Homo sapiens: one gene and its partners. The protein of the gene in region 1 purifies or fractionates together with the protein of each later gene. This does not show direct contact. Each region holds a gene or a part of one and is shown in the gene's direction. Other genes may lie near its edges. The genes, in order: GRPR, FNDC3A, USP30, ASPHD2, PANX1, RAB3B and CDS1.

Region 1 (4,948 bases):
CAAGTAAATAAAGGAGTTGCTAATTCACTCGTATGAGTGCTTGCCTATTGATCTGAGGTCAATCACTCTTCTGAACTCATTGGGCTTTTCCAAAGTAAGCCTTTCCCCCTCAATCTAATAATGATAATAATAATAAGTGCTAATATTAATTGAGCACTTACTATGTGCCAAATACTATGCAATCTTAACATGAATCATTTCATCTAACTTCATAAGTTCTCCTCACCCTGCAGATGAGGAACCTGAAGCTTAAGACACTAAGTAACTTGCCATAATTATAAATGAGGGAGCCAGGATTGAAGCAGAGCCTGTGTACTGTATCATTAAGCTATATTGCTGGCAACTAATCAACACCACTGGGCTCATGGCTATTGGCTGGTTACTGGTGCTACTGATCTCTGCCGAGAAGCTCTTCCACCTCTAGCCATGCAGCATCAGTCTCCCTCCTGCTGGCAGAGAGGGGCGCTGAGCCTTTCATATTTACATAGAAAGCATGGCAGCAGCCTCAGTGTTGGAACCTGCCACTGGAAATGTCCATAACAACACAGTTGGGGGCTTTCTTTGTGGGCCCTGGCATGGTAAGTGCAAGTTTTGTTATTCCTTATGGGTTCTGAAAAATGAGACTTCACCTGTTAGTGACTGGCTTCACGTCATGTACCTGGAGGAGCTGGCTTCACATACGTCATAAAGATGCACTCTAATAATGTATTTAGAAGTTGTTGGCTAAAGGTCTAAGCCTGATTCTAATAGCACTTCCTCAATTAAGCTTTTTCTAGCACTCCTTCAACGATAACTTACTTCTTTTACCACCCACTCAATTCCTCAGTATTGTATCTATCACGCTTTTATAGTTCTTTATTTTCCACACAGGGCTATAAAGAGGATATTTGCTATAAAACATGGCAAACATTCAATTAAAAATGCAAATAGCTGCATCAAAATGCCGATTCATAAAATTTTTAGATCAGATGAGAAAAGACCCATTTTTCTGGAAAAGACTATTGATCATTGAGAGTTAAGAATACAGCTGGTTCCCAATTTAATTTCTCCCTGGTAAACAGAATAGGAATGGCTTGGCAAATCTACAGGAAAGAACATGTGTGCATTGTGCTTCTGGCTTTTCCAGATGTCAGTTGCTGAAGGTTTAAGGTGTGAGTCTGTGCATGTGTTTCTGAGGATCAGTCCCTGTTCAAAGAGGCAGTGGGAAGACTGAGTGGGATAACTCACACATGGACACCCTGTGCATCAGTGTGCGTTTAATTCAAAGACAGACCTCATTTGATAGCAATATTGACATGTCATTCTAATGAATTAGAAAAAATGAGAAAATGGGATGTAAATCCCCATCTGGATTCATGGGGATAGTATCAGAAAGATTTTCAGTGCCTTTGCAGAATGCTAGCAACATTTATTAAATACCTACCCTAGGTGCTATGTGCTTACATGAGAAGCCAAAGGTATCTGTTAAGCTAGGTAGGAACTGCAGTCGGCTGGTTGCTTCTCATCTGGAGAAAGCAGGCAACTGGGCAGTGATTGAAGTGTCCAGCAGGGGGCTGGCATTCTCTGTCTATAAGTAACACTGGTTCCTCTTCAGAGCCTCAGCTCAGCGGAGCTGCCGTTTGCTGGTGAAGCCCGTGACGTGCAAAGCATCCTGCCTATAGGATTTGAGGATTTCTCAGTGCAGTTTTTTTCTACCCACTTTAAACCTCCAGATTCTAAATATCAGGAAAGACGCTGTGGGAAAATAGCAGGCCAAAAGTTCTTAGTAAACTGCAGCCAGGGAGACTCAGACTAGAATGGAGGTAGAAAGAACTGATGCAGAGTGGGTTTAATTCTAAGCCTTTTTGTGGCTAAGTTTTGTTGTTGTTAACTTATTGAATTTAGAGTTGTATTGCACTGGTCATGTGAAAGCCAGAGCAGCACCAGTGTCAAAATAGTGACAGAGAGTTTTGAATACCATAGTTAGTATATATGTACTCAGAGTATTTTTATTAAAGAAGGCAAAGAGCCCGGCATAGATCTTATCTTCATCTTCACTCGGTTGCAAAATCAATAGTTAAGAAATAGCATCTAAGGGAACTTTTAGGTGGGAAAAAAAATCTAGAGATGGCTCTAAATGACTGTTTCCTTCTGAACTTGGAGGTGGACCATTTCATGCACTGCAACATCTCCAGTCACAGTGCGGATCTCCCCGTGAACGATGACTGGTCCCACCCGGGGATCCTCTATGTCATCCCTGCAGTTTATGGGGTTATCATTCTGATAGGCCTCATTGGCAACATCACTTTGATCAAGATCTTCTGTACAGTCAAGTCCATGCGAAACGTTCCAAACCTGTTCATTTCCAGTCTGGCTTTGGGAGACCTGCTCCTCCTAATAACGTGTGCTCCAGTGGATGCCAGCAGGTACCTGGCTGACAGATGGCTATTTGGCAGGATTGGCTGCAAACTGATCCCCTTTATACAGCTTACCTCTGTTGGGGTGTCTGTCTTCACACTCACGGCGCTCTCGGCAGACAGGTAAGTACAGGCTGAAAGTTACATGCTCTCCAAGGGTGATAGACGCCTGGGTAAATGAACTACCATGTCGGGACAGGGAGCTGATTGCACAAGGGAAGTTTTACTCAAACACGGATTCCCTTCCAGGCAGGTTTTTATTCTGGGTATGACTTCTTGAGTGTAACATATTGGTTTAAGAAAGAAAAGTGAATGATGGGGACAGAAGGAGACAGATGAGAAAAAAAAAATCTCTAAGCAGAAAACTGAGGTGCCTTTTTCTGGAGACATATCTATTTAGCATTGCCTTTTCCTAACTTCTCCCTCCTTGCAAAATTAATTGACCAGTGAGAAAGACAATCACACCCAATAGAGTTTAAACCTCAGGCAAATGTTTTTTAGGAGCAATTGAAACCCCTCAGAGAACAGGAAAGTTCCACTGGATTTCTTCAAAACGTTCTTTCAGAAATAACCAAGAGGAGAAAATAAGCCTCATTTCTCTGAAATTCATTTTCCTCAGACAGTTTAACTTTTCTCACAGCTGATTTTGAATTTGACTCTCTGTGATAGAACAATTGTATGCCGGTTTTCCTAAGTCTCTCTTAAATGAAATCAAACATTATTTGAGTTTTTAAAATTTTCTGGAGAAAGCTCTATTCAAGGTTGATTTCTAATTTTAATATCTTTATTGACAATACTTCATATACCATGCTTTTGGGGCTTATTGTGGGGAGGAAGAGGGAGTTCACTACAGTTTTTTATTCTGGGAAATATACATATTTGCAAACTGCATTTCTTGTGTGAGCACATTGCATAAAAGTTTACGTTTATTCAGTCTTAAAACTATATATTCATTCTTTGAACATTTATCAAGTGTCTAGCATGTAAGAAACACTTACCTGAATTAGCAAGTCAAGAAATAGCTGCAGGTTGTTCACATAAATTACTGAACATACTTTATGTACTTCTGTGTTCTGGAAATTGGACATAGTAATGAATAGACTTTCAGACACAGCATAGACCATATGGTCAAACCCAGAAAAACTGCTGCAATGAACCTAGACTATAAATTTTTCACTTATAATCAACTGTATGTTATGTGTTAAAGATACAGAAGGATTTGAGAGTGTTCTGGAAAAGACATAGATGCTGCTCTTGAAAGTTTATACTCCGAAGAAAATGTCCCACATTTTAATACATGTGGTGCTGGATTCTCATTTTGTAGAGGAACAAACAGTCCTCAGGTGATCTGGCTTTGTTGAGTAATGGACAAATAAAGATAGTGTTATCAGTATTTATAGACATGTGTTTATGCTTAGCTACCTGAAGCACACTGCCCAGCACACGACATTTTCAAAGTCTGAAAAGTAATAGCACAGAAGTAAGGTTTGCACATTGTACCGACTGGACAGAGTTTCTCCATTCCCTCCATTCCCCTTCGGCTTGCACATCCTCCCCTGCACATCTGCCCACAGATACCAATGACCACAGACAGTTTCATGTATTGATTCAGGGCTGGCAAACTCTGGAGCTGGCAGAAGGGCTGTGGCTTGTTACCAATGGCCGAGGGCTCTTCAGGATGAGGGTAATTTTCTTAATGGGAAGGAGAGATTTTGGTTTCCGGGTTGGTGAGTGCAGTGGTACAGATGGTGTTTACTCTCTTCTTAGGGAGAAAAACAGAAAGGAAAGTGAGGGCATGAACTGTAAAGATGCAGCTGCAGGGAACTCTTCTCTGGAGTTTCAAAGCAGACCAAGTTCACCATCAACAGAAAGGGAAAGCTCTTTCAAAAGCCAGGTTGCACTCCTTCGCGGCTCCAGTGTGTTCCCAGTAAGTTTATAGTTACTGCCTGTCCTTGCCAAGTTCAGAAATTACTAGAAGCTCCCATATAGCTAACTTTTTGTGTTTTGCTAAGTCTTTAAAAAGCTGATGGATCACCTGAATCACAGGTAGTGCATCTAACCAATTCCAATAGAAAGAATAGGTATTGAGCTAAATGATTAAGACTGTACTTTTTTTCTATTCATCTCATTTTTGAAAACAATGGGATTCTTCTATCTTATATCTCTGAGGTTGGCAGGGCAAATATATATTCTATATTATTTTTTCTTCTCAACAAGGTGTAATCCATATACACAGTAAACTGAACAAGTAACAGCTCAATATATTTTTACATATGTCTATAGAACTGCATAACCAGATGGAGATATAGAACAGTTCCAGCATCCCCCAGAGTTTCTCTTATGCCCTTTCCTAGTTAATACCCCCATACAGAGGCAATCACTATTCTGATTCCAATCACCATAGGTTATTTTTGCCAGTTCTTTAATCTCATATAAATGGAATCATATAGCAAGTACTCCTTTGTATCTATCTTCTTATGCTTATCATTATCTCTGTGATATTCACCTGTATTAATACGTGTAACAGTGTGGTTTGTTCTTTTTAATTGTGT
Region 2 (4,516 bases), on another chromosome or scaffold:
CCCTGTGCAATCGGATTTGGAGGAAAAATGAAGGACTTAACATTATCTGAAGTCACTGATACTCTGAATAAGTATGGTCAAGGAGTGAACTATTTTCTTTTGGAAAAACTTTTTAAAATTTTATTTTTAAAGTATTATACTGTTATTTTTAGGGCCTAATGGTTACATTGAATAGTTGGTTTCACCTTCTTAAGGTTTTTTACCAATATTCATGAAACTTGATATTTTTAAAATCCCTACCCTTTGGTAAGTCGTTATTTATTAACATTTTTATTGGTGATTAATACATGTTTTTTCCTAAATTAAAAATAAATAACTTGGAATAATTTTAATATTAAATATTTGTTAACAACTGAATGTTTCCATAGAATTTTCTGAGAAGTTGAGTTTCTTAGAGTTTTCGTAGCTGGCTGGGCCCAGTGGCTCATGCCTGTAATCCCAGCACTTTGGCTCAAGCAGTCCTCCCTCTGAGACAGGAGGACCACTTGTGCCCAGGAGTCTGAGACCAGCCTGGGCAACATGGTGAAACCCTGTCTCTGTAAAAAGTAGAAAAATTAGCCCAGCATGGTAGTGCACACCCGTAGTCCCAGCTACTCAGGAGGCTGAGGTGGGAGGATGGCTTGAGCCCAGGAAGTCGAGGGTGCAGTGAGCCATGTTTGCACCACTGCACTCCTGCAGTCTAGGTGATGGAGCCAGCCAGACCTTGTCTCAAAAAAAAAAAAAAAAAAAAAAAAAGAAGTTGAGCTAGCTCTTAAAGATGGGCATTTGGCAAAACTGCCTGATACAGTGCAGTAACAAGTAGGTTTACTTCTGACCATTATAATGATGCGCCACTGTTAAGTGAAAATACCAGTGTATTGGGGCTTTTCTTTTGCTAATGAGCTTTGAAAAATTGATGACAAGAAATTTCTGTAATTGTTCTCCTATGTGTCGGGGAAGGAATTTGCCAATACTGAATAAAATTTTTTATATTCCGGGTAATGTATGTTAAAAGTAATTATGAGAAAGTGAGCTTTTTAGCATGGAACAGAAAAATCAAATTCTGTTACAAAATAAACAAATTTATAGAACAGAATGTTGGTAAAATTTGATATGGAATATGCCTAAGAAAGATTCGTGAAGTATTAAAAAATTAAAAATAATAATTTACACCTACCATCTCCCGTACCTTTAATTAGTATCAATTTCTTCACTCCTTATATTTCTCCTGAATTATTCCACCGACCTCATTCCCTAATGTCCTGCCCTTCTTACAAAAACCATTTCCTGAAGAAATAAGGGGCAGAAGAAAGTATAGGTAAATGAAACTTTAAAATTTCTCACACCTTTACTTTCATGATTTTTAAGTCTTTTTAGTTAATGTGAATACTTATAGAATTATGACCAAATTAATCTTGAAACACAGGGAAAAGACTTTATTAATGAATCTTTAAATATGCAGTTCTGTGCAATCAGTGGACATTTAAGGGTGAAAAATAAAAACACTAGTTACATTTGTTTTTCTAGTTTGGACCATTTTCAGAAAAATGTGATATTACTACAGCCCCTGGGCCACCAGATCAGTGCAAGCCCCCTCAAGTGACATGTAGATCTGCAACTTGTGCACAAGTGAATTGGGAGGTATTGTAATTTCCATTGACTTGTATCTACTTTCTTAAGTGAATAGAATAGTTTATATAAAAGAATAAAGATACTGTTCATTTTTACCGCCTATATTATACAGAGTAAGCCCTAGTTTAATTCACATGAAAAACAGTGACTTCTTTTTCCTCTTTGAAGAATTTGAGTAAGGTATATTTGCATTACAAATATTTAGATTCCTGTTCATTATGTGCTTTGTATTTTTATGAATGGCTTTGTCTCAGTACTGAGATATTTCAGCCACTGTAAGTTTAATGTTCAGAATAGACATACACAGGAATTAGTAAATTCTATTTCTCTTATATTTATCCAGTACACATCTCCAGTGTACTTATTGTGGATAGTAATAATCAGTGATGATAATTATTATATTTTCAGTTCCCTTTGAAATTTAACAAAATGTGTGTATGCTTTTAACATTTCATATTAATAGAATTATCTTGAAACATATTTACCTTAAAACACTCTTTCTAAAGTGACTTAGTCATATTTCTACTTCTAATTCAAAACAGTTATATATTTGACCAATCTTAAATTCAGATAATCTTAATGAATAAAAAATGTAAAATTGAACAGTTTTGATTGTGCTTAAAAGTTTTAAAGAAACTCAAAAGCAATCTAGTTTTACATGTGCTCAGGTAAAGAGCATTTTTGGCCAAAAGCTATTTAATCAACATCAAGACTAAGACCTTTATCCTTTTCTTAATTTAAAGGTTCCTTTGAGTAATGGAACAGATGTCACTGAATATCGACTGGAGTGGGGAGGAGTTGAAGGAAGTATGCAGATATGTTACTGTGGGCCTGGTCTCAGTTATGAAATAAAAGGACTTTCACCAGCAACTACCTATTATTGCAGGGTCCAGGTAAAGATGATCAGTACCTTGTCACTTAACTCTATCCAGAGTTTTATATTTCATTGGCATTTTCATGGTCATGACTTTGTTAACTCGGAGGCTCTGTTAATTTGTAGGCTCTGAGTGTTGTGGGTGCAGGCCCTTTCAGTGAAGTAGTAGCCTGTGTGACTCCACCATCAGTTCCTGGCATTGTGACCTGTCTTCAAGAAATAAGCGATGATGAGATAGAAAATCCCCATTATTCACCTTCTACATGCCTTGCAATAAGCTGGGAAAAGCCTTGTGATCATGGTTCGGAAATCCTTGCCTACAGCATAGACTTTGGAGATAAACAATCCCTAACAGTGGGAAAGGTTACAAGCTATATTATCAACAATTTGCAACCAGATACAACATACAGGTATACTCTAAAAATTATGTTGATTTTTGCCTAGACCAGAGAGACGCTTTAAATAAAACAATCATAACCAAACTTTTTTTCTTATGTGGCACTTAGAATACGAATTCAAGCCTTGAATAGCCTTGGAGCTGGTCCTTTCAGCCATATGATAAAATTAAAAACTAAGCCTCTCCCTCCTGATCCACCTCGTCTGGAATGTGTTGCCTTTAGCCACCAGAACCTTAAGCTGAAATGGGGAGAAGGAACTCCAAAGACATTGTCAACCGATTCTATTCAGTACCACCTTCAGATGGAGGATAAGAATGGACGGTAGGTTTTTTTAATTGCTTCTTTATATAGTTTCTTAGGTCTTAAGTATATACATTTCTGTAACTATTAGAAGTAGGCCAGGTGTGGTGGCTGACACCTGTAATCTCAGCACTTTGGGAGGCTGAGGCAGGCGAATTGCTTGAGCCCAGGAGTGCAAGACCAGCCTGGGCAAGACAGTGAGACCTTGTCTCTAAAAAAAATTTATTTTAATGAAGTAAGTTTTCAAAAACGAAGTCAAGATTGTCATACAAAAGTGTGCTGTTTTTAAAACGTTAGAAAACACAATGTACATTTCCTGTTTATAATTTGTGAGTGGAATACCAAGAGAAAAAAATAAGTGGGCTACTGTTTGGTTGTTTTCTGTAATCCATTTACTGTTTTCATGATAGTAAAAGACACCTAATCTTAGATACAAAATAAACTCTTCAGTGTTTATTTCTAGCAGGACACAATTTTTTTTTTTTAAGACAAGGTCTTGCTCTGTCACCCAGGCTGGCCTCCAGTGGCACTATCTTGGCTCATTGCAACCTCTGCCTCCAGGGCTGGAGCCATCCTCCCACCTCAGCTCCCCAAGTATCTGTGACCACAGGCGTGGGCCACTACACCTGGCTAATTTTTGTATTTTTAGTAGAGATGGGGTTTCACCATGTCGCTCACACTGGTCTCGAACTCCTGGGCTCAAGTGGTCCTCCCCGCTCAGCCTCACTGAGTGCTGAGATTACAACTCATGAGCCACTGTGCCTGACCGAAACAATTTTTTTTTTTTTTTTTTTTGAGACGGAGTCTCACTCTCACCAGGCTGGAGTGCAGTGACGCGATCTCGGCTCACTGCAATCTCCGCCTCTCAGGTTCAAACAATTCCCCTGCCTCAGCCTCCCAAGTAGCTGGGACTACAGGTGCGCACCACCACGCCCGGCTAATTTTTTGTATTTTAGTAGAGGCGGAGTTTCACCATGTTGGCCAGGATGGTCTCCATCTCCTGACCTCCCGATCCACCTGCCTCGACCTCCCAAAGTGCTGGGATTACAGGCGTGAGCCACTGCACCCGGCCCTGAAACAATTTTATAGTAAATGATTATGATCGTTCCTGGCCTCTGAGATCCTTGAGGGCAGAGATTATGTTTCAGTCTTTTCCAGATTCCTGACACAGGGCCTGCACGCTAAATGAATACAGTTCAGTTTTTCACTGTGTGATCTCAGTTAGATTCTGTGATTAATTATCTAGTCCCTTTGCTAATCACTGTTGCTAATCTTTGCTAATCTTTGAATTAGAAAGAACCTAATTTCATTCAGGTTCTTTCTGTGCCTCTTT
Region 3 (3,490 bases), on another chromosome or scaffold:
GCCCCTGAAACAACTCGGTTCTCCCGATTTCTCTTCCACCCGCAGCTCCCTCAGTGTCTCTGCATCCACCTACAGCGGCTGAGCTGGTCCAGCCACGGCACGCCTCTGAAGCGGCATGAGCACGTGCAGTTCAATGAGTTCCTGATGATGGACATTTACAAGTACCACCTCCTTGGACATAAACCTAGTCAACACAACCCTAAACTGAACAAGAACCCAGGGCCTACACTGGAGCTGCAGGATGGGCCGGGAGCCCCCACACCAGGTGTGTGCGCGCGAGGAGCCGATGCAGCAGGAATTTTCAGCACAGAGAAAAGCAGTTTGGCATCACCACCTTCTGGGTCCCTTATGACAGGAGCACAAGGCTTGTACAATGGTGCTTAAACTCTTGAGAACAGCAGGATTGGGGGTGGAAGAGGGAAGATTTCTTAGAAGAGGTTAAAATTATGTAGCAGTGAGATGTATCGTTTTTGAAACCATATTACAGATGAAAAAGTACAGAGAGAAACGCTTAAAATTGCAGCTTTGCCTTCTAATTTTTCCGCTAAATGATATAATCATTGGCTCACATCATTCCAGTGAATTTCTTTTTTCGGTCATGTCATTTCCTGTCAGTAGAGGAAATGTAGGGAGGACATGTCCTGGCTAAAGATCACTGAGCCTCTTCTGGGGGTTGAAATGCCTTCTGTACTGAATTATGTATCTGATTCCATTACTGCCCTCAGCTGAGGTCTCATTTAAGCCGGGTAGCTATTATCGCCGGTCTTACTGATAAGAACATGGAGGCTCCACGGGGTTGAATGATTGGTCCAAGGGCAAACACCACACAGGAGAACTGGCCCTAGAATGCCATGTTGGGCCATTTTCTAAAGGTGTCTCATGTGACACACTGAGTTCTTTAGAGTTAGACATGAGGAAAACCCACTCACTTGAAGGGCTCACAGCCTGAACTCACCACCTGTCTGCTGCCCCCAGTTAGGTCAGGATTGTCTCACACCCCATACTTTCCTATTTAGGGTCCCTTACTCCTTTTGTTCTTTTTATGACCACAGTTGCATGGCCCGACACCTCATCATGTCAGGGAGATTGTGTTTTCCTCTTTCTCATCAAGTCACTAGATTAACATCGAAAAGAGATGAGGTAGGGGACAGACTCTGGTTCAGTCCTTGGCCCTGGTTTTAAATCAAAGACCTCTGCACCCCAGCTTCCCCATCTCCTGGGCTGGGGTGCAGGTTTACTAATGTTGAGAGCATGCTGGCTGTGGTTAAAGATGCCAGCAGTAGGGCCACTCGTGGTGGCTCACACCTGCAATCCCAGCACTTTGGGAGATTGAGGTGGGAGGATTGCCTGAACCCAGATGTTTGAGGCTGCAGTGAGCTGTGATCACACCACTGTGCTCCAGCCTGGGCAACAGAGCAAGATCCTGTCTAAAACACACACAAAAAATGTCATCAGGAAACTACTTGGTACATAACAGCCCCCAAAAATGACACTTGAAAGGAAAAGACATGTAAATATGGCCTTAATTATGTTGTCTACCCATAAACATGTATGAATGCTATTACACGTTGGTATTCCTTAGAAGCTGACAGAATTAAAGCAAATAGAATGCTTAGATCAGTGGTTCTCAACTTGGAGGAGTTTTGCCTCCCAAGGGACATTGGGCAGTGTCTGGTAACATTTTTGGTTATCACTACTGGGGGAGGGGTGCTACTGGTGTCTAGTGGGTAGAGGCCAGGGATGCTGTTCAACATCCTCTAATGCACAGGACAGCCCCCGCAACAAAGAATGATCCAGCCAAAACCATCATGGTGCTGCTGTTGAGAAACCTTGGTTTAGGTCAAAAGCCAGTAAATTAGCTACTGATTAACTTTGATACATGGCATTAGCAAACAGGGCTAGGAAGCTCAAAGATCCCAGGCTAGCCGTAAAGCTGGAGCTAGATACACTTTTCCTATTTGGGATTAAGACAGATTATCCCTATTTGAGATTAAGGATAAAGGGCAGATTATTTTATGAATCTATATAATACCAAATGAAATAGATTTTTTTCTTTGTAGCATTATGGGGAGTTAACTTTCAAGGTAATCAAAACCAGGTTTTGTTTACAGAGCCACTGCTAATTTTCATTGACTCGGGCCTTTTTCTCTTGCAGTTCTGAATCAGCCAGGGGCCCCCAAAACACAGATTTTTATGAATGGCGCCTGCTCCCCATCTTTATTGCCAACGCTGTCAGCGCCGATGCCCTTCCCTCTCCCAGTTGTTCCCGACTACAGGTGAGCCACCCTTTACAAGCCCCATCTTAGAGCTACCACTGCTCTTAGCTTCTAAAATTAGCTTTTCACAGAAATGAATTAAGGAAAATATAGATGTTTATTTTTCATTTTAAGGTGAAGTTTCACGATTACACATTCCTATTTATTTTTGTCCAAAATGGAAATAACTTTTAAATTAAAAATTTTTAAAGTACATAAAATTTACATATGCATATGTATGTGTGTATATATGTGTGTATGTATAAAATATAAAGAAAATTTAAAATTTCTTGGGATACCATCTAGAGATAGCCAATTAAACACTTAGGGTCATGCACTCTATAAAGTTGTACATCACACATACATATAGTGTACATAAACACATACACTCATTGATACAAACATCCACATATACACAATATACATATACTCATAGAATGTACATCTTGCCATGCCAGTAAATACAGATCTGTATTTTAATAGTTGTGTAGCATTTGGTGGTATGGACTTACCATTGTATTCATCCCCTATTTAACATTAGCATTCTTTTGTTTTTGCCTATAAAGTCTTTTTGTTAAAATTGTAAACCCCTGACATGTGTTCGTATCATTCAGCTCCTCCACATACCTCTTCCGGCTGATGGCAGTTGTCGTCCACCATGGAGACATGCACTCTGGACACTTTGTCACTTACCGACGGTCCCCACCTTCTGCCAGGAACCCTCTCTCAACTAGCAATCAGTGGCTGTGGGTCTCCGATGACACTGTCCGCAAGGCCAGCCTGCAGGAGGTCCTGTCCTCCAGCGCCTACCTGCTGTTCTACGAGCGCGTCCTTTCCAGGATGCAGCACCAGAGCCAGGAGTGCAAGTCTGAAGAATGACTGTGCCCTCCTGCAAGGCTAGAGCTGATGGCACTGTCTGCACTGTCCAGGAAAAAAGTAAAACTGTACTGTTGCGTGTGCAAGCGGCCCCACTAGAGCCTTCCAGCCTTCTGGTGTGTTCTAAGAGCAGGCTCCACCTGGGAGCCAGCCCCAGTTCACACCAAACCAGGCTCCCTGAACAGTCCTGTTCATGTGTGTAGGTGGTTCTGTTGTGTTAAGAAAGCATTCATTATGTCCGGAGTGTCTTTTTACTCATCTGATACAGGTAATTAAAAGAACTCAGATTCTTGAAGCCACCGTTTTCATATTGTAATGTTAGGTGTTCTCAGAGGGGAGGTACCTTTGTCTAATCAACG
Region 4 (4,144 bases), on another chromosome or scaffold:
TGCAAAAGGAGGTAAAGAAGCTCCCTTGGGCCTGTTTTATAAGGATGCTGCTCCCATTAGGACCCCACCTTCATGATCTGATCACTTTCCAAAGGCCCCACCTCCTAACACCATCACCTTGGGGTCAGGTTTCAACATGGGAATTTGCAGGGACACAAGCCCACAAGCCTTCAGACCATAGCACGGGCTCCAGAGGTGTGAGGCAGGTCAGGTGCTTTAGAAGTCAAAAACTCTCAGTAAGGCAAATCACCCCCTATCTCCTGGCCTTCCCTGAATCTTGCCTGCCTTCACTCTCCTTTCTCTGGTTTTCCTACAAGGTCTGAAAACTCCAAATGGCTGTGAGCTGGTGGTGGGGGGAGAGCCCCAGTGCTGGGCAGAAGGGCGCTGCCTTCTCTTTGATGACTCTTTCCTGCATGCTGCGTTCCATGAAGGTGAGTGGCTGCCTTTCCCACTTCCTTTTTTTCAATGAATAGACTTTTATTTTTTTAGAGAAGTTTTAGGTTTCCAGAAAAATCAGGCAGAAAGTACCAAGGAGGCCCCTTCATATCACCCCATAACACATATACACACACAGTATTGATGCGTTATTATTACCTAAAGTTCATGGTTGACATTAAGGTTCACTCTTGGTGTTGTCCATCCATTCTGTGGGTTTCGCCAAATGGATAATGACACGGACCTACCATGACAGTATCATACAGAATAGTTTCACTGCCGTAAAAATTCCCACTTAAAGATCCCTCCATCTCCCCATTTCCTTTTGTCCACCCTGCTCAGAAGCCCATGAAGCCAGGTTTATGCTCTCAGTGAGAGAGGAGGTGGTCCGATCCGAGCCGAGGGACAGGATGGGGTCCCTGCCCCGAAGCTGAGCACGTAGGGTCCAGCCCTGCCTGGATCCTGGGTCCTGACTCCAGGGTGGTTTGAACCTGTCCTCTCACCCCTCCTTCCCCCCCAGGTTCAGCAGAGGATGGCCCACGGGTGGTTTTCATGGTGGATTTGTGGCATCCAAACGTCGCAGCGGCCGAACGGCAGGCTCTTGATTTCATCTTTGCTCCGGGACGATGAGAGTATTTCCCATGCTGGAGTCGGCGAGAAGGGCCGAGGCGGGGCCTGGGCAGACTGTGGTCCGGTCCAGTCCCTACCGGTGTTGTTTCCATGCTCAGAAACCTGCCTCAGCGGAAAGCTCTTATTTGGGATTTTATATCATGTCGGGTCCCTCTTTCCCTTGGTTATTGTAAATGGAAACTTTTCGGCTTGTATTTCCTTAGATTTTTTTTTTTTCCTTCCAATCATTTGCTTCAGAGACTCCTTTCTGGCCTAACAGCGCATTCCTTTGATTGGTCCTTGAGTGACCAGAGACTTAGTGCCCTTGTAAGTCTGTCTTCTGTTGCTACTTGTTTTTTTCAGTGCTCTGAAATAGAGTAACTAAATGGTTATTTGTCTGAATATAATAATGTAAAACTTCTTGTGGTCATCTTAAAAAAAAAAAAAAAAAACTAAAAACTGCAAACCAGAGAGCTAGAGAACTTGGCCTCTGATGCTGGCACACTGGGGACCCTTCAGCCACCTGACGGCAGGGGGACAGTCTGCAGCCCCCACACCTGACTGGCTTCAGTAGCCAGGTGGAGGGGCTGCCAGACACAGTCAGGGTGGCACACAGTGTCCAGGCCCAGGGATACTGTCACCATCGCTCACCTCATTCTAAACCTTGTCAGGTCCCTGATGGCAAAAGCATTGGGCCAGTAGGACTGGAGGCTACTCTTTAAACATGGCTTTCCTGCAAAGCTGAAGCTGGTGTCCCCCAGCACCAAGCTGCGGCTCACACAGATCAGCCACGGAACGTGTGATCCGCTTACCTCACTGCCTACAGAAGCCCTACTGCCAAACTGGGCCTGGAAAATTCCCAGTTTTAGGTGTTTTGAGTCCACAGTGATGAACGTTAAGGCCACCAGGTTGGCTGATAGGAGCTGTAGGGGGATAGGACCGCGCTCACCCAGCGACATTTGGGGAAAGCCTTTCTCTGGCAAAACTGGAATAATAGATCTGACCAAAGTTTCTGTTTTGCTTTGGAGTTCTGTTGCCTATGTTTTTTTTTTTTTCATTTATTTGTCTGTACATAAATGTTCAAACACTAGACTTGGAGATAGTGGAAGAGTTGGCCCTGTGTCTTTGTCATGGCACAAAGGTGTGCACTGCGTGACAATGACCCAAGCCAGTGTGTGCTAGTGAGGAGACAGAGAAGACCTACATGCCCAGAGGACCCGTGGCCGTTGTGCTGGTTTTCTGGTCTCCTGTGAAGAACATGTGGATCTCTTCCCGAAGGAAAAGGTCCCAGGAGACCAGTTTGAGGCACTCACTCTAGAAATAGCCTGTGTTAGCTGATGTGTGAAAGCGTAGCCGGCCAGCCACACTAGAGATGCCTTTTCTGAATAATGTATTATGAGCAGTGTCAGATTTATAAAGCCGAGGAGTGGTTTGGAATATACAGCTGGTCGCAGGTGCAGGTCCAGTGTTTAGATCCAAATGGAAAACAGCAGCTTCTAAGAGGTACAACTGTTGGAAGAAAACACAGTTGAAATGCACCAGGCAGGTACTAGCAAGTGTGCAAAGAGCACGTCTACATTTGAGTAAAATGTCTACACAGATATTTGTCAGTGATGAGAATGCAGGAAAAGGCAGACATTTCAAACATACCTGAAGTCTTTTTACTCATTATCTTGTTAAAGAATCACTGAGGTGCATGATTTCTACACATCGTGACTGCTCTGCTCTGCGTTTACAAAACCAACAGCCCGCGCAGGTACCTAGCTACCTGCATTCATGTGACATGTCTGGGGAACAGAAGATAAATAAAGGATCTTGCTGAAAACCAGAGTGAAGTGGTGAGGTCATCTGTTGTAAAGAAAGACTTAGGCCAGGCTCGGTGGCTCACGCCTGTAATCCTAGCACTTTGGGAAGCTGAGCGGGGAGGATTGCTTGAGCCAAGGAGTTTGAGACCAGCCTGAGTAATATAGTGAGGCGTTGTCTCTACCAAACAAACAAACTAGCTGAGTGTGGTGGTGCACACCTGTAGTCCCAGCTATTTGAGAGGCTGAGGTGGGAGGATCACTTGAACCTGGGAGGCGGGGGCTGCAGTGAGCCTAGGTCGCGCCAGTGCACTCCAGCCAAGACGACAGAACAAGACCCTGTCCAAAAAAAAAGACTTGCTAGGCAGAAGGGGGCAAGTGACTTTGAGGCTCTTGTGTTTTGAGTGATGTCACAGAGACAGGCGGGTCACTAGAATTGATCGTGGATAGTGAATGAAGCAAAATGTCCCAAAGCAATGGGACTAGTGGGGTGGGGACAAGAGCACATCTAGGATATGTTAAGGAGCAATAGATGTCTAACTGGGCAAAGAAGAACAAGGACCCTGGCTTCAGAAAAGCTGAGGATTTAGGACTCCGTGCCAGGAGTTTGCACCCTCGGGACCTTGGGCAAGTCCCTTAGCCTCTCATAGCCTCAGTTTCTCCTCTGTGGGTATGTGCAGTATCTGGCACATGAAGGGCACTCAACAACCTTGTTTCCCTTTCTGCCACAGCTGAGTAGAGAAACAGGTGAAGAGGAAGGCCGCCAAATGGAAGAGATGGGAAAACACATCGGGACAGCAGTGGGTGTGGCCAGAGAAGCCAGTGGCTACTTTCAATTGCCTGTGTCTAATCACAGAGGAAGAAACATGTCCCTCAGTAGCTGTGTTTTTCATGTTTTTCCCTTTAGAAGAGAGGGAGACAGGGGGGTCTCCCAGCCAGGAGCCCTAGAAGCAGCCGGGCTGCCGCATGTTTCCACCTGCAAGCGAGGTTCCAGCCAGCTGTCCGGGCTGGGCTGCCACAACAAGCGGAAGGGAAGAGCGCCACTCACCTGGGATCGCGATGTTTCTCACCCTCCTCAAGTGTGCATTGCCAGCTAGGCATTGCTAAGCTAATTTACGTGTTGTAGCTCTGGAGGCTCAAGGTGAGAAAGGGGAGCCAGCCGGCTGCAAATGGGAATCCTGCCTTCCACCCGAGACAGGCTGGACTGGCCTCAAGCTCCCTCTGTTCCCATGTACTCAAGGCCAGACCAATTACTATTTGTAGAAGGTCACACCCCAGGTCTTCTGATCCCAAACCCT
Region 5 (4,516 bases), on another chromosome or scaffold:
TTGAGACCTTGTTCTTGCCCTGCCCTCTCCCTGCCCTGTGGCAGTTTACTATGCAGTTGGGCACTAGAAGGTATCTGTTAGCAGGTAAGTCATTCAGCTGTGTGTAATTCAGCACCCAGCCAGGTGTTGAGCTATGAGCTCCAGGCTGGTGAAGGTTGGCAGGCACTTGGGTGAGGAGCTGTCAAGCAGACTCCCATGTTTTCTGAAGTGTTTTCAGGAGTTCCAGGGGAGGACAGACATGTGGGATGAAGCTAACAGGACCAGGGAAGACCTATTAGATTAGGTATACATTTAGATAAAACCAGAAGAAGGGCTTTTGAGAAGAGGGGAGAGGTACATAGATTAATACATGGAGTTGGTACAGTGGGAGGGATCATGTCATGCAGCATTTAATTTTGTGTAGTTAGTAGTATGCACTCAGCCAAAAACAAACCAAAAAAAAGAACAGCAATAAAGGGAGAATGAAGTAATTGAAATGGAGCTGGCACTTTGCCCACCATATTGGCCAGTGAACTCAGGCCCCGGGAAGACACTGAGATAAGGCCTGCAGACTTAAAACATGGCTTCATCCTTCCTCTGTTGATAATTACTGCTTCCCTCTCTGGTGCTTGGAATACTCTTTTGTTGAACTTAACACAGAGCTTTATAACCTGTCTATGCATGTTTTGCATGGAGATTGAAACTACTCTATAAACATTTGTTGTGAATTAAAGGTGATAGCTTTTGGCATCATCAGACCTTGCTAATTGATTGTTATGTGCATGATGCTGTACCTTGGCAATGGGGTGTCAGACACACGTAGGACATAAGAATCTTTCCTCTGGAAGCACGGTCTAGTAGAGAAGTTGAACGCATAACCCTCCTAATGCAGGATTCATGGAACCTGGGCAGTGTCAGAAGTGTGTACTAAAGCCTGATGCTGTGGAAAGGCAGAAGGAGGGGTTTCTTCTGACTCATGAACAGTGAGAGTTTCAGGGCAGAGTTGGCCCCTGAGGCAGGATTCCAAGTGTGTGGAGCAGTGTTGGCTGAAGCTGAGACGTGTGAGACAACATGTGGCTGCTGGAGCTTTAGTGGCACCGTCACATGGAGAGGTGGGAGCCAAAGTAAGGGTCCAGGGGCTCCACATGAAAGAAGGCATAGCAAATCCCATTGTTTTCCTGTTTGTGTTGGGGGGGTGGTGTGTGTGTGTATAAAATTAGAAACGAGAAAATCAGCTGTAATTACATGTTTTTCCTTTTTCCACCTGTATGATAAACTAGTATATATAAGAATTCATCTCTTTTGATATAAAATCCCCTCAAGCGTAAAATAAATTATATTTTCCAGTTACTTTCCAAAAATTAAATTTTCTGTCAACTGTTGTTTGATAAAATAGGGTTCAAGTTGAAACTTTGTGGCGATTTTTCCTTTAAATAAATGATTTTTTACTTTAAAGAAAATCTATTAAATCAAGAAATGTGCATGGATTGTGCTTTAGATTTAAGAGCAGGTTCTCTGTGGGGGTGGGAGTGTTGTAGGTTAGAGAGAGGGAATGTCCTCATATGATAAAATACTTGGCTTCATATTAAAGGCTTCCGTTTGGTCTTTGGCCTTTTCTCTTAGTAGTTCAGCCCACTGGGCTCCTCTCAGAAAAGAGGGACTGAGCCTGCCTGGGCCACAGAGACCCATGGGCATAGCAGCAGGCTGATCTTTATCAAGCCCTGCTGGGTGCCAGCATGGTGGCTGCAGGTGAAGCGTCCACTCCTCAGAGGTTCTGGCCCCTTCCCTCCCACAGCAGTTCACGCAGGTCCTGCATGGTAGGCACTGGTGTGGGGCTACCTGGGCTGGTGGGGACTGTGTTGGGGACAGAGAGCAGAAGGGACTCTGCCTTGCTCATTCACCAGATCTTGGTCTGGCTGCCCACAATCACAGGTTGAGGGTCACTGCAGAAGTGATGTGGTCTGGAGGGGCATGGCAAGGCTGGTGCCATGGTCAAGGTGGAGGCAACTTTGGTAGTCTTTGCGGCAGCCACTCATTGGTCCAGATGTGCCCTGTGATAGTGAGAATTACAAGCAGAAACCCTCCTGAGGGAGTGGCAAGGAGACTCTTCTGAGTTGTGCCTGGGAGCATTTTGAAGGCTTTTGGACAGTGAGATACTAAGGATTGAATGTAAGAACTAAAATGTGCACCTGTCTGGTTAGGCCTGATACTTCTAGTCAGCCTTTCTAAAATACTGCAGGTGTGCCTCCTCTGAGATTCAGCTGGGTAGGGGGAAAATAAGTGACACACAGCAAAAGACAGTTTAATTGTGAGTTTGGGCTAGAAAGGCTGTGTGGTGGGAGCCAGAGAAGGGAGAATCAGTGGTTTCACCAGCCCTCATTTTTCCTTCCTCTTGTCTTCTACCATGTCTTGCCCTCAACAAGTGCTCCATAGGAATTTAGTGAAGGAAGTGCCAGAGCACACTAGGGAACTCTCCCAGAGTGGCTGTGCTGAGGGAATGGACGGAGTGTTCTGGATAAGGGTCCCAGTTGCTTGGAAGTGCGCCCTCTGAGTGCCATTTAATGATACAAGTGCTGTCCTGGGTCAGGCCTGTCCTGGCCACCTCCCAGACACCTGCCTCTGATGATAGCAGTAAAGGATGCACATCGTCATGATAGGTAAGTTGTCCCACTTGATTTATAAGCTCAGGTTATATTGCGTGTGCCTCAGATTCTTTTTTATGTTATTTTTGTGATGAGGAAGAATCTGTGTTCAGAGTGCAGAATGGTGTACTGTGGAAGAAGGATGAGTGTGATCTGTGTGGCTTGGGTACCCTATGGGTGTCACCTTGTGCAAGCTGCTGGGAGACAGTGCCTTGAGGCCCTTCATTTCTAACACATCTACTCTCAGATGCCTCTAGAAGTGCTGCACATTTCATTGATGGGGGGAGAGGTTTAGGAAATGGCTGGGCGACAGCTTTGTGTAGAATATAAGCATGATTGCATGACGTGACCTTCAAGCTCTGAAATTCTAGAAGTATTTCTCTAAAGTTATGAATTCCCTTAGTGTGCTGCAGTTATGGACTGAATGTTTGTGTCTCCCAACCGCAAAATTCATATGTCGAAGTCCTGATCCCCAATGTGATGCTAATTGGAGATCCCTTTGGGAGGTAATTAGGTTTGGATGAGATTATGAGAGTGGGACCTTCATGATGGGATGCCCTTAGAAAAAGAAGAAATCCCTCTTTCTCTCCCCCCTCCCTCTTCCTCTCCCCCCTCCCTCTTCCTCCTTCTCTCCCTCTTTCCCTCTCTCTCCCACTACCCCCCTTCCTCTCTTCTTCCCTCTTCCTCTCTCCACAAGTGCGGCCACAAGGAAAGGTGTGTGAGCACGCTGGGAGAAGGGGGCCATCTGCAAACTAGGAAAAGAGCTCTCACCAGACACCGAATCTGCTGGTACCTTGATCTTGAACTTCCCAGGCTGTGAGAAAATAACTGTTGTTTAAGCCACCCAGTCTGTGGGATTTTCTTACAGCAGCCTGGTTGAAGACAAAACTATCAACAGACCAGACTCTGAATGGGATTCATGTTTAAGGGGTCTTTTGACAGGGCCTCCTGTGCCCTGCGCTTAGGGCTGTACAAGGCCTGAGGCGTCAGGGGCTGCTTTGATTCCCTGGTGCCTCATGTGGCACATATCCCCTGGGAAGGAGAGCCCGTGTCTCCTGCCAGGATGTTTCTGGCTGGCTGGACCAGGTGGGGAGCTGGGGCAGCCAGTAGTCTACTAGGGAAAGGGTGTCTGGTCAGCCGGGGACCCTGCCTCCCTCACCCACTGACCTCTTAGTGGGCAGCCACCGTTCTGGGTAGAGAAGGACTTAGTCTTTCTGAGTTAGCACTGCTCTTTTGCTATCATTACAGGGCAGGCATTGGGCCAGCCCCAGTGAGTCAAAGGATAGATATAACTGCAGCTGCTTCCAATATAGTTTGCTTGGAGTTCCCCTTTCATTTCCTGCAACTGAGTCAGCGGCTGGGTGGCTTAAGTTATCTGCTCTGTTGTGGCTGAATTTAGACCTGTCTTTGGGAATATCTTCAGGCTGCTTTTTAGCATGTACCAGCTGGCAAAGCAGATCGATTCTTTTCAGGGTTGTCTATCAGAGTGGGCCAATATTTAGGGTCTCATGGCATAGGTCCTATAATAGAACATCTTCAACTCACACTAAACCAAAGAGCCAAGAGAGACTCCTAACCCCTCCAGAAGGATGCATGCTGTCCAGAGAGTCTACTGTTGGATACATGTTTTACTTTGTTAATATTTTTCTTGTACAAGTAGTAGCTAAATACATCATCATGGTAAAGGATTCATAAATCTCTTTCACTATGTGCTGAAGGTAGGTGGACACTTTGTGCAGCCTTATTGCTGTACTTTGTCTGCATTAGCATAACGTGTACACCTTATTTTATTTTTTAAAACAAATCGAGTCATACCATAGTGGCTTGCTTTTTCTCACTTAGTATGTTTGGAGAGCTTTCCGTGCCAGTACATAGGTGTCACCTCACTGTTTTAT
Region 6 (4,261 bases), on another chromosome or scaffold:
AGGGATCACTGTCCACACAGAGTCTGGCTTCCCAGGTATCCAGCAGGTAGACAAAACAGCTAACTCCACTGCCACTCCTTTCTCCACATCCGTTCCTATTTCTCAGCCATCTCAGTGACATCCGCCATCTTGAGAGTCAACTACTGACTGGACTGAGTTGTGTGGTATATGCTTCTGTTTACTTCTCTTCTGTCTTTTTTAAGTGGCCAAATAGCAAACGCTTAAATAGGAAATCTCTGGGAGACTTGAATAAAAGACTTTGCTTGGTAGAAAATCATGTCACAGAAAGGCTAATAGACAGCAAAGTAAATCAGCAAGTCCCTGAGCAGTAGGATTAGGATTCCTGTCTCCTTTCAGATTCAAATGCATCTGTTTCTGGGGTTAACAGTGGACTGTTAAGAGGCTGTGCAGCTTGGGTTAAGTCATTCTTATCTCTGGGCTTCAGGAGCTTAGACCAGATAGTTTCTACAGGCTCTCTTGGTGCTGATGCCTTGGGATTCTGTGGCTGTTTTCTGTAAGATCTGCAAGGGGGAAACAGGATTTTGGCAGCAATCCTTTCATTACTAAAGCTTCCTTTCTTTTCGGGTACAGTGAAAAGAGCCAAGGCTGTGTGACCCCCTCATCACTTAGCCAGGCGTATGGTCCTGGTTTCTGAGGCTGCCAGAAAGCATCTTAGCAATTTGTGTTTGGATGGTCCATGCCTGACTATTCTAGGCTGGAGGTTCCTAAAGAGTAACAAGAGGAAGAGAAACAAGAATCTCTGACACTTGTTGAGAATAGAGCACAGTCCCATTTGTTTGAAAAGAGACACCAGGCAGCCATGTTTATGTGCCAGAAATGCATTCCACCTCAAGGAGGACTTAATTTATGGACCCGTGTGTGCCAGGCTGAGCTGGGCAAGATCTTTCTCAGGACAAACTCTGCCATGCAGCTAAAAGCCTGGAAACTAAAGGATTTCATGTAGTAAACTATCTTCCAACCCCTGTAGACATCAGACCACAGGATGAGGTTTCAGAAGGTCATAAGGCAGAATAGTTAAGCCTACAGGGCTTACAGTCTGACAGACCTGGGTTCAGTTCTTGGGTCTTCATCACTAGTTTTGTGACTTCGGGAAGATGACTCCCGGAGCCTCAGTGAGCCTCAGTTACTTCATATGTAAATGAAGTAATACTATCTACTTCACAAGGCTGTTGAAAGGATTAAATGGAGAATGGGTGTAAAACCCTTAGTGCAGTGCCGTGCACACACAGTAGATGCCGAACGTGTGATGTTGGCACTACACAATGTGTAATCCCAATCAGGCAGAGCTAGGCAGGCAAATCTAATCCAGGATCTTTGTAAGGGGACTGAGAACCAGAGACTGGAGAAAGCCAGTGTAAACACCATGAGCAAAGGAGCAAGAGAAGGGGCATTGTGTAAGTAGGAGATGGAGCTTGAACTTACTAAGTGGATCAGGGTAGAAGAATCCAGTCAGGACCAAGGGAGGAGAGTCCAGGAAAATGCCATGAGCAGCTCTGTAGCATGACCTTGTTGGGCTGGGTTAAAGTAGGGTCTGCCACCAGTCATGTGACAGAAAGGTACCTCATGCACTTCCTCCTTCCCCCAGAAATCAGCCTCCAGGAGTGAGGAATGAGCCCAGAATGAGAGTTTAGAGTGCTCCAGAGCCTTTGTTAGAGGTGCCCTCCGACATTCAGAAAACCAGGATTCCAGAGACCTGGGTTTGAGTCCTGACTTTGCAGCATACTAACTGTGTGATCTTGAACCAACATATTTTCACCTAATGAGGCTGACAATCTTCCCTACTTCACAAAATAGTTATGAGAGTCAAATAAAAGTACATTTTAGAAAGTGAAATGCTGTGGACATTTAAGGTGGAGCCACTGTGAGAGTCTAGGGGGATAGATGGTATTCGTCTCAGAATGAAACGAATACACCCCTCTCAGAGCCCTTTCCAAGGATCCCCTCCTTCTTTCAGCTCCTTCCCTCCACCTCAATACACACTCCTGTCCCAGGAACCTAACCTCATCTAGAAATACCAGGGCCAGCATGCCTTACACCTAGAGGTTTGGTTGGCTTCAGAGAAACTTCTGGAGGCTAAAAGCAGCCAAGAAGAATCAGCCACTACATGCTGGGCCTGGATGAACAGAGCAGTGAGCTGTGATGGGGCTGGGGCTGGGGCCCAGGAGGAGCAGGCAGGAGAGTTTGTATGCACCGTGATTCAAATATTATAACAAAAATCATCGATCATGTGTTAGGCACTTTACAGTTCCCAAAGCACTTTCCCATCCATGCCCTGATGATCTTTGACACAACACTGTGATGTGGGTTTTATTATTTCCAGTACAGATGAGGAAGACTGAGGCCTGCATCAGTGAAGCAACCTATCCAAGACTACATAGAGAAGGCAGTAAATGGCAGGGTTAGTCTCAGAACAGGGGAGGGTCTGTTCCCCCCGCAGTGGGCAGTCCTAATTCTGAACTTCACCTATCTGGGGGTGATAGAGGGGAACAAGAGGAAGCCTGCTGAAGAGAAAACCTAAACATCTGTTTTGTCTACGTATGACTTCCTCTGCTTGTGGGAGAGAAGGAAGGAAAGGAACACATTGTTGTCAGCCCCACAACCCCAACAGAATTAAACCCTGGAGCAGGTTGAACAGCAGAGGCTTCCCTCAGATCAAGGAGCCAGGAGCAGATGATCTATCTCTGTGGCCACACAGAGAGATGTCACCTTATGCAATTTGCATATCATATTCAATTCCCCCAACTGCTCTTTCTAATTTATTCAACTGGGGACCAGGCTGGTCTCATGCCAACCTAGGAGATGTACCATAGCAGTATGAGCAGAATTCCTCAGGAGGAACAATTAGCAAAAACTGCAGTTGCCTCTCGATAGGCCTGAGCAGAGAGAGGAACAATAGCTCTCACGTCTCTCCTCATCAGATTCTAACTAAGCAGATGTTCTCATGCTTTTTTCTTCTTCCTATGTTCTGTATACTGACACCTCTTCTCAGTGGCATATGAAATATGAAATGTCATGTGTTGTGAGTTTGTATAAATATAAAGGAATATATATACACAGTAGCAAAAGAGAAGATCTCATTTACAAATATCTATGGTGTTTCCTTGTTCTGTGTTGATCTGTTTTATTGATACAAACTGAATTTTCTTAATGTATCTTCTATCTCTATTATAGTGGCAATGATGGTATATGCATTAAAGTTCTTCTGAATTGTGTATCATTTGTAGAGTGACTCTTTCCTGAGTTTGTGCTAAGAACTTTGGGCAGAGGAGGCTGGGCGCAGTGGCTCATGCCTGTAATCCCAGCACTTTGGGAGGCCAAGGCAAGTGGATCACTTGAAGTCAGGAGTTCAAGACCAGTCTGGCCAACATGGCAAAATCCCATCTCTACTAAAAATACAAAAATTAGCCAGATGTGGTGGTGGGCACCTGTAAATCCCAGCTCAACTGGGGAGGCAGAGGCAGGAGAATTGCTTGAACCCAGGAGGCAGAGGTTGCAGTGAGCCGAGATCGCTCCACTGCACTCCAGCCTGGGTGACAGAGTGATACTCTGTCTCAAAAAAAAAAAAAAAAAGAACTTTGGGTACAGATTCTTGCATTCAGAAATCTTTAAGAGGAACTGGGAAACAGGTCCAGCACCAGTGCAACAAAAGACACAATATGATGCAATAGCTCATGATGGACTCAGGAAAGGGGGAGATCAGGATGGACTACAACAGTCAGGGAAGGCTTCATGGTGAAGGAAGGACTGACATTGCAAGAGGTCAGGGAATGCCTATTAGTGTGCACTTCTGGAGACCTGCTGGGCTGTGGCTCTGTGCTAGGTGGTGTAGAGGTTGCAGAGAATAACAAGGGGCAATGTGTGCCTCCCAGCAGCTTAGCTCAGTGTTAGCTCATAGCAGAGATTTAAGATACACTGCTGGATGGCACGTGGGAACAAAGCTGCTGAGCTGGAAAGTAGAGAGCCCACAGGAAAATGAAACCAAATGTAGACAGAACTGGCAGCCCCAGGAAGGGGCAGAACCTGCTCCCTACCCCCACCTCTCCTCAAAAAGTTTAATGAGTCTAAGTAGGCGGGATATTCAGTCCAATTTTACACCTATCTCCACCATGATGTGCTAGGAAACCTTTCCCCTTTCTTAGCCTAGTTAACTCCTACTCATCTGCCAGGACTCAGGCATGGAGACCCTGGTGGGCCAGGGAGGACACAGAGCTTTGGAAGCACAGAGCAGAGATAACGGAGG
Region 7 (4,516 bases), on another chromosome or scaffold:
TGGATGTGTTCTAATAAGTTTTTATTTAGTGAAAAAAATCCAATAGTAATGTATTTTCGTTAGAGTGAGTCCATGACGCCAAAGAGACACAGATAGGAATTTTATAGCAGGTGATTTTTTGAAAATTTGCTAATATATTTGTTTGTTTCTAAAGGATTTTGCAAATACCATTCCTGGACATGGTGGGATAATGGACAGATTTGATTGTCAGTATTTGATGGCAACTTTTGTACATGTGTACATCACAAGTTTTATAAGGTACTTTTACACTTGAGACATTTTTTAGATGATTTCTTTGAGTTCTCATTTCCATCAACATTAGTTTGAGTAAGTTAACTTTTTCCGTCAATGGTAATCTACAATATTAAAGTGAATGGTGGCCCCTGGAATTAGAGTCTTGAGCAAGATGGTTAACTTGTAATTGTTTTACCTACATTTGAACAACTTAAAAAAAGATAGTATTTGTCATGGTCCTGGACCACATTGAAGACCCAATTAATGTGGATGGTATAGGATTTGAAACTTGAGGAGATTTGATTTCTCAACTGTGGGCATTGCAATGATCATGAATACTAAGAGTTAAAAAGGGAGATAACGAAATGCATCCAGTCTACCAATTATTACTTGAGTGCCTGCCATATTGTAGAATGTTCTAGGGACAAATATGGCAGAGAACAAAACAAACCAAATCTCTGCCCCCATAGCTACTTGTTTGGAAGTTGAAGAAAGAATGATGAGAAAGAGACAATAAACAAATAAATATAGTTTGTTAGATGGTTGTAAGTGTCACACAGAAAAATAAAGCAGGCCGAGGGGATCATGCCTGTGTGTGTAGGGGCTGGCTGGTGGATGGGTGGATGAATATTGCCATTTTAGAAAGGGTGGTTTATTCTTGTTATTAAACCTTAATGTTTTGGATCTGCCTTGAAATACCAGTGTGAGTGTGAAGGCTTAACATCAACTGCATGTTAACTTTATTTTCTGTGGTCTCTACTGGGGGCCCAGAAGGCAGAATGCTTATTAATAGTACCTGAGCTGTAGAAAACATGGATTTCCTTCATAGTACTTGGAAGGAAATTCATATTTAGCAATCCCTAAATACACATTTTAAATATGTACCACAGTAGTGTGAGAATTTTTATATTAACTATTTTTGAGAGACAGTCCTGATAGCGAGTTTATCAATTTCATTAATCTTTTCAAAAATATCAACTCCAGGCTTTGTTAATTTTCTCTACTGTAAATTTTTTACCTCATTGATTTCTCCTCTCATCTTTCATTTCTCTGCCTTTTTTAAATGTTCAATATGCTGTTCTTTTTTTAATTCTGGAGATAAGCTTAGATTATTGATTTTTAGCCTTCTTATCTAATTTATCCATTGAAGACTATTAAGTATCACTTTATCCTCTTCCTGCAAGTTGTGATATTTGTATTTTCATTATTTACATGTTTTCTGATTTCCAGTATTATATCTTCTTTAACACATGGGTTATTTAGAAGCATATTCATTAGTTTTCAAACAAATGGAGATTTTTTCACTTTCCTCCCTTAATTCCACTGTGGTCGGAAAACATACTCTATGATTTGAGTATTTTATAATTTTTGAGATCTATTCTGTGGTACAGCATGTTATCTATTCTAGTACATGCTCCATGGGCAAAGGTGTATTCTGTAGTTTTGGGTTGTAGTTTTGTCTGTGTCAGTTAGGTGAGGTTTAATTAAATCTTCTGTACTGATTTTTGTTTATTTGTTTTTGTGTTTGTTTGGTCCGCTTGTTCTATCAGTTACTAAGAGAGCTTTGTTAAAGTCTCTCATTGTGATTGTAAATGTATTTTTTTATTTGTAGTTCTACCAATTTTTGGTTTATATATTTTGAGGTTGTATTAGGTATGTACAAATTTAGGATTGTCATATCTCTCCATTGAATTGATCCTTTTGTCATTATATAATGTCTGTCTTTACTGCTTGCCTTAAAGCGTACTGTGTTGAATATTAAAATAGCAATATCAGCTTTCTTTTGGTCAGTGTTTGCATGTTATTTCTTTGTCTCTCCTTTTATTTTTAACATTCCCTTTTCCTTATATTTAATGTGTTTCTTTTTTCTAGTAAGCATATAGCTGATTTTTTTCCCTGTTTTATTTATAAGACAGTTGATAATCTTTATCCTTTTAATGGGACTATTTAACTTATTTGCATATTATTTATTGATCTATTTGGGTATTAGTAATTAGTGGTTAAATCCTTAAAACTTTGTTTTCAGAATATGGCAGCTTTTTAGGGCATTAACTCATATGCTTTCTTTAAAAAAAAAATGCTGTCCTCTCAGTAGGGAGGTGTCATGCTGAGCCATGTTGTCCACCATTTGAAAGCAGCTATTTAGACTGTTAGAAGACACTGAGAGTGCCAGGATGCAGCTAGCTGGGAGCACCTGCTGACACAATTTTGCATTTAGCTGAACTTGCTAAAGCAGCCTTCCTTTTCTCTGTTGGTCTCTACTTGGGGTTTATGCTGTGAAGTTGCTGACTCTTTTAAAGAAATGAAATAAGGCGAACAGTGTCCTGACCTGAGTGTGAAAGTTTTTTGGCAGATGAGTTGAGCCACGTGCATGAAGATGACCCTTGGTGGGATGGCTCATCTGGGCTCTTGTGCAATTTGTTAAGTCAAAGATTTTCAGAGTAAATAGTTCCTCTGCTCATCCTCATTGTGGTAACACTAAATAGCAAACATTTCTTTGTTGCTGGGATTTCTACTTTCTATAATTCAATGTGAACAATCTTTACTGTAAGGCATACATTATTTACCCACATAAATGTCTTTCTTAGAATTCTATGCCATCTCTATACATGACTTGTATGTTGCTTTTTCCCATTGGATTTTAAAGCAGATCTGCTTTTATTTTGTTTTTTATATTGGAGTTCACCTAGGACTGTCTTTGAACAAAGTCCACGGCACCTGTATCACTGGTAAGGGGCTTCAGTGCTAGGCTCAGGACTTTTGTGTTCTGACTCTGAATATTCATAACTCCCTGGAGATATTTTTCAACAAAATACCTTTCATCATCTGAAGTTTCTTGGAAGTTAAAAATTTCAATTATATTTTCATGCCCTCTTTTTGGTTTGTCCTATGTTCACCAGGCTCCTTTCCTTACAGAATAGTTTTTGTGTCTCATTCAATCTCAAGATTTGCCATTTATCCCCACCTTTAACTTTGGTTGCCCTTTCAAGAGCTTTTGTAGAACTTAGATCTGCACCCCTTCAATTGACTTACATTGCTCTTGTGTTTTGTGTTTGTGCATTCTTTCTCCCTCTCTGCTGTAACCCTTGACACTAACATTGCACATTAAAGTGAGCTATTATCAAGAGCTATTTTAATTCTGTAAAGATTCCTACTCTACACTTAAAGGAATGGTTTGTTTTAAATTGGAGGTATGTGCTTCACTTATCCCTATTAAAATAACACGAACTTGTCTTCTTTGCCTTTTATCATTAGGGGCCCAAATCCCAGCAAAGTGCTACAGCAGTTGTTGGTGCTTCAACCTGAACAGCAGTTAAATATATATAAAACCCTGAAGACTCATCTCATTGAGAAAGGAATCCTACAACCCACCTTGAAGGTATAACTGGATCCAGAGAGGGAAGGACTGACAAGAAGGAATTATTCAGAAAAACACTGACAGATGTTTTATAAATTGTACAGAAAAATAGTTAAAAATGCAATAGGTTGAAGTTTTGGAGATATGTTTCTCTCTGAAATTACTGTGAATATTTAACAAACACTTACTTGATCTATGTTATGAAATAAGTAGCAAATTGCCAGCAAAATGTCTTGTACCTTTTCTAAAGTGTATTTTCTGATGTGAACTTCCTTCCCCTTACTTGCTAGGTTTCATAATTTAAAAGACTGGTATTTAAAAGAGTCAAACACTATAAAATGAGTAAGTTGACGATGTTTTAAGATTGCACCTGGCAGTGTGCCTTTTTGCACAAATATTTACTTTTGCACTTGGAGCTGCTTTTAATTTTAGCAAAATGTTTTATGCAAGGCACAATAGGAAGTCAGTTCTCCTGCACTTCCTCCTCATGTAGTCTGGAGTACTTTCTAAAGGGCTTAGTTGGATTTAAAAAAAAAAAAAAAAGATTGTCTACTTTTCAAAGAAGTAACCATTTGCCAGGGGAAAACATTCTGCTTTTAGGTAGTTTCAAAATTCAGGGGAGGGAGCCTGAAATTTTTGCCATGATTGGTTTGTTAGAAAGAGCAGGCATCAGACTACTTCTGATAAAATTGTTTGGAAGGTCACGACCTCGCAAAAACTTTTCAAGAGCAACAAGGAAGAATTCTGCTGTGAAGAACACAGTGTACGGATCCTCCGCATATTATCTCAACAGAGGACAGTAGCTCAGGAGGCAGCTTCAAACGGTGACCTGTGGCCTGGGCCATCTCTTCGTCATGTGCTTCACTTTTCCCTGTTTCCCTGTGAACTGGCTTCCATGGTTCTGTAGGGTAGTGAGTCGGGGTT

What was found.
Region 2: the proteins of GRPR (region 1) and FNDC3A purify together in Homo sapiens (affinity purification with mass spectrometry; 2 studies listed by BioGRID and IntAct, with this or other methods). This does not show direct contact.
Region 3: the proteins of GRPR (region 1) and USP30 purify together in Homo sapiens (affinity purification with mass spectrometry; 2 studies listed by BioGRID and IntAct, with this or other methods). This does not show direct contact.
Region 4: the proteins of GRPR (region 1) and ASPHD2 purify together in Homo sapiens (affinity purification with mass spectrometry; 2 studies listed by BioGRID and IntAct, with this or other methods). This does not show direct contact.
Region 5: the proteins of GRPR (region 1) and PANX1 purify together in Homo sapiens (affinity purification with mass spectrometry; 2 studies listed by BioGRID and IntAct, with this or other methods). This does not show direct contact.
Region 6: the proteins of GRPR (region 1) and RAB3B purify together in Homo sapiens (affinity purification with mass spectrometry; 2 studies listed by BioGRID and IntAct, with this or other methods). This does not show direct contact.
Region 7: the proteins of GRPR (region 1) and CDS1 purify together in Homo sapiens (affinity purification with mass spectrometry; 2 studies listed by BioGRID and IntAct, with this or other methods). This does not show direct contact.

The regions. Positions count from the first base shown.
Region 1 is NC_000023.11:16,121,848-16,126,795, forward strand, and holds the start of GRPR (gastrin-releasing peptide receptor), read left to right. Parts: upstream 1-1,717; 5' UTR 1,718-2,106; coding exon 2,107-2,519; intron 2,520-4,948. UniProt on the Homo sapiens protein: Receptor for gastrin-releasing peptide (GRP). Signals via association with G proteins that activate a phosphatidylinositol-calcium second messenger system, resulting in Akt phosphorylation. Contributes to the regulation of food intake.
Region 2 is NC_000013.11:49,195,371-49,199,886, forward strand, and holds part of FNDC3A (fibronectin type-III domain-containing protein 3A), read left to right. Parts: intron 1-1,506; coding exon 1,507-1,620; intron 1,621-2,354; coding exon 2,355-2,504; intron 2,505-2,611; coding exon 2,612-2,895; intron 2,896-2,991; coding exon 2,992-3,204; intron 3,205-4,516. UniProt on the Homo sapiens protein: Mediates spermatid-Sertoli adhesion during spermatogenesis.
Region 3 is NC_000012.12:109,082,798-109,086,287, forward strand, and holds part of USP30 (ubiquitin carboxyl-terminal hydrolase 30), read left to right. Parts: intron 1-45; coding exon 46-265; coding exon of another isoform or gene 266-376; intron 377-2,155; coding exon 2,156-2,276; intron 2,277-2,869; coding exon 2,870-3,134; 3' UTR 3,135-3,490. UniProt on the Homo sapiens protein: Deubiquitinating enzyme tethered to the mitochondrial outer membrane that acts as a key inhibitor of mitophagy by counteracting the action of parkin (PRKN): hydrolyzes ubiquitin attached by parkin on target proteins, such as RHOT1/MIRO1 and TOMM20, thereby blocking parkin's ability to drive mitophagy.
Region 4 is NC_000022.11:26,442,142-26,446,285, forward strand, and holds the end of ASPHD2 (aspartate beta-hydroxylase domain-containing protein 2), read left to right. Parts: intron 1-317; coding exon 318-431; intron 432-955; coding exon 956-1,065; 3' UTR 1,066-2,540; coding exon of another isoform or gene 2,541-2,553; 3' UTR 2,554-2,874; downstream 2,875-4,144. UniProt on the Homo sapiens protein: May function as 2-oxoglutarate-dependent dioxygenase.
Region 5 is NC_000011.10:94,131,427-94,135,942, forward strand, and holds part of PANX1 (pannexin-1), read left to right. Parts: intron 1-4,516. UniProt on the Homo sapiens protein: Ion channel involved in a variety of physiological functions such as blood pressure regulation, apoptotic cell clearance and oogenesis.
Region 6 is NC_000001.11:51,906,928-51,911,188, reverse strand, and holds the end of RAB3B (ras-related protein Rab-3B), read left to right. Parts: 3' UTR 1-3,233; downstream 3,234-4,261. UniProt on the Homo sapiens protein: The small GTPases Rab are key regulators of intracellular membrane trafficking, from the formation of transport vesicles to their fusion with membranes.
Region 7 is NC_000004.12:84,645,068-84,649,583, forward strand, and holds part of CDS1 (phosphatidate cytidylyltransferase 1), read left to right. Parts: intron 1-154; coding exon 155-258; intron 259-3,489; coding exon 3,490-3,619; 3' UTR 3,620-4,516. UniProt on the Homo sapiens protein: Catalyzes the conversion of phosphatidic acid (PA) to CDP-diacylglycerol (CDP-DAG), an essential intermediate in the synthesis of phosphatidylglycerol, cardiolipin and phosphatidylinositol.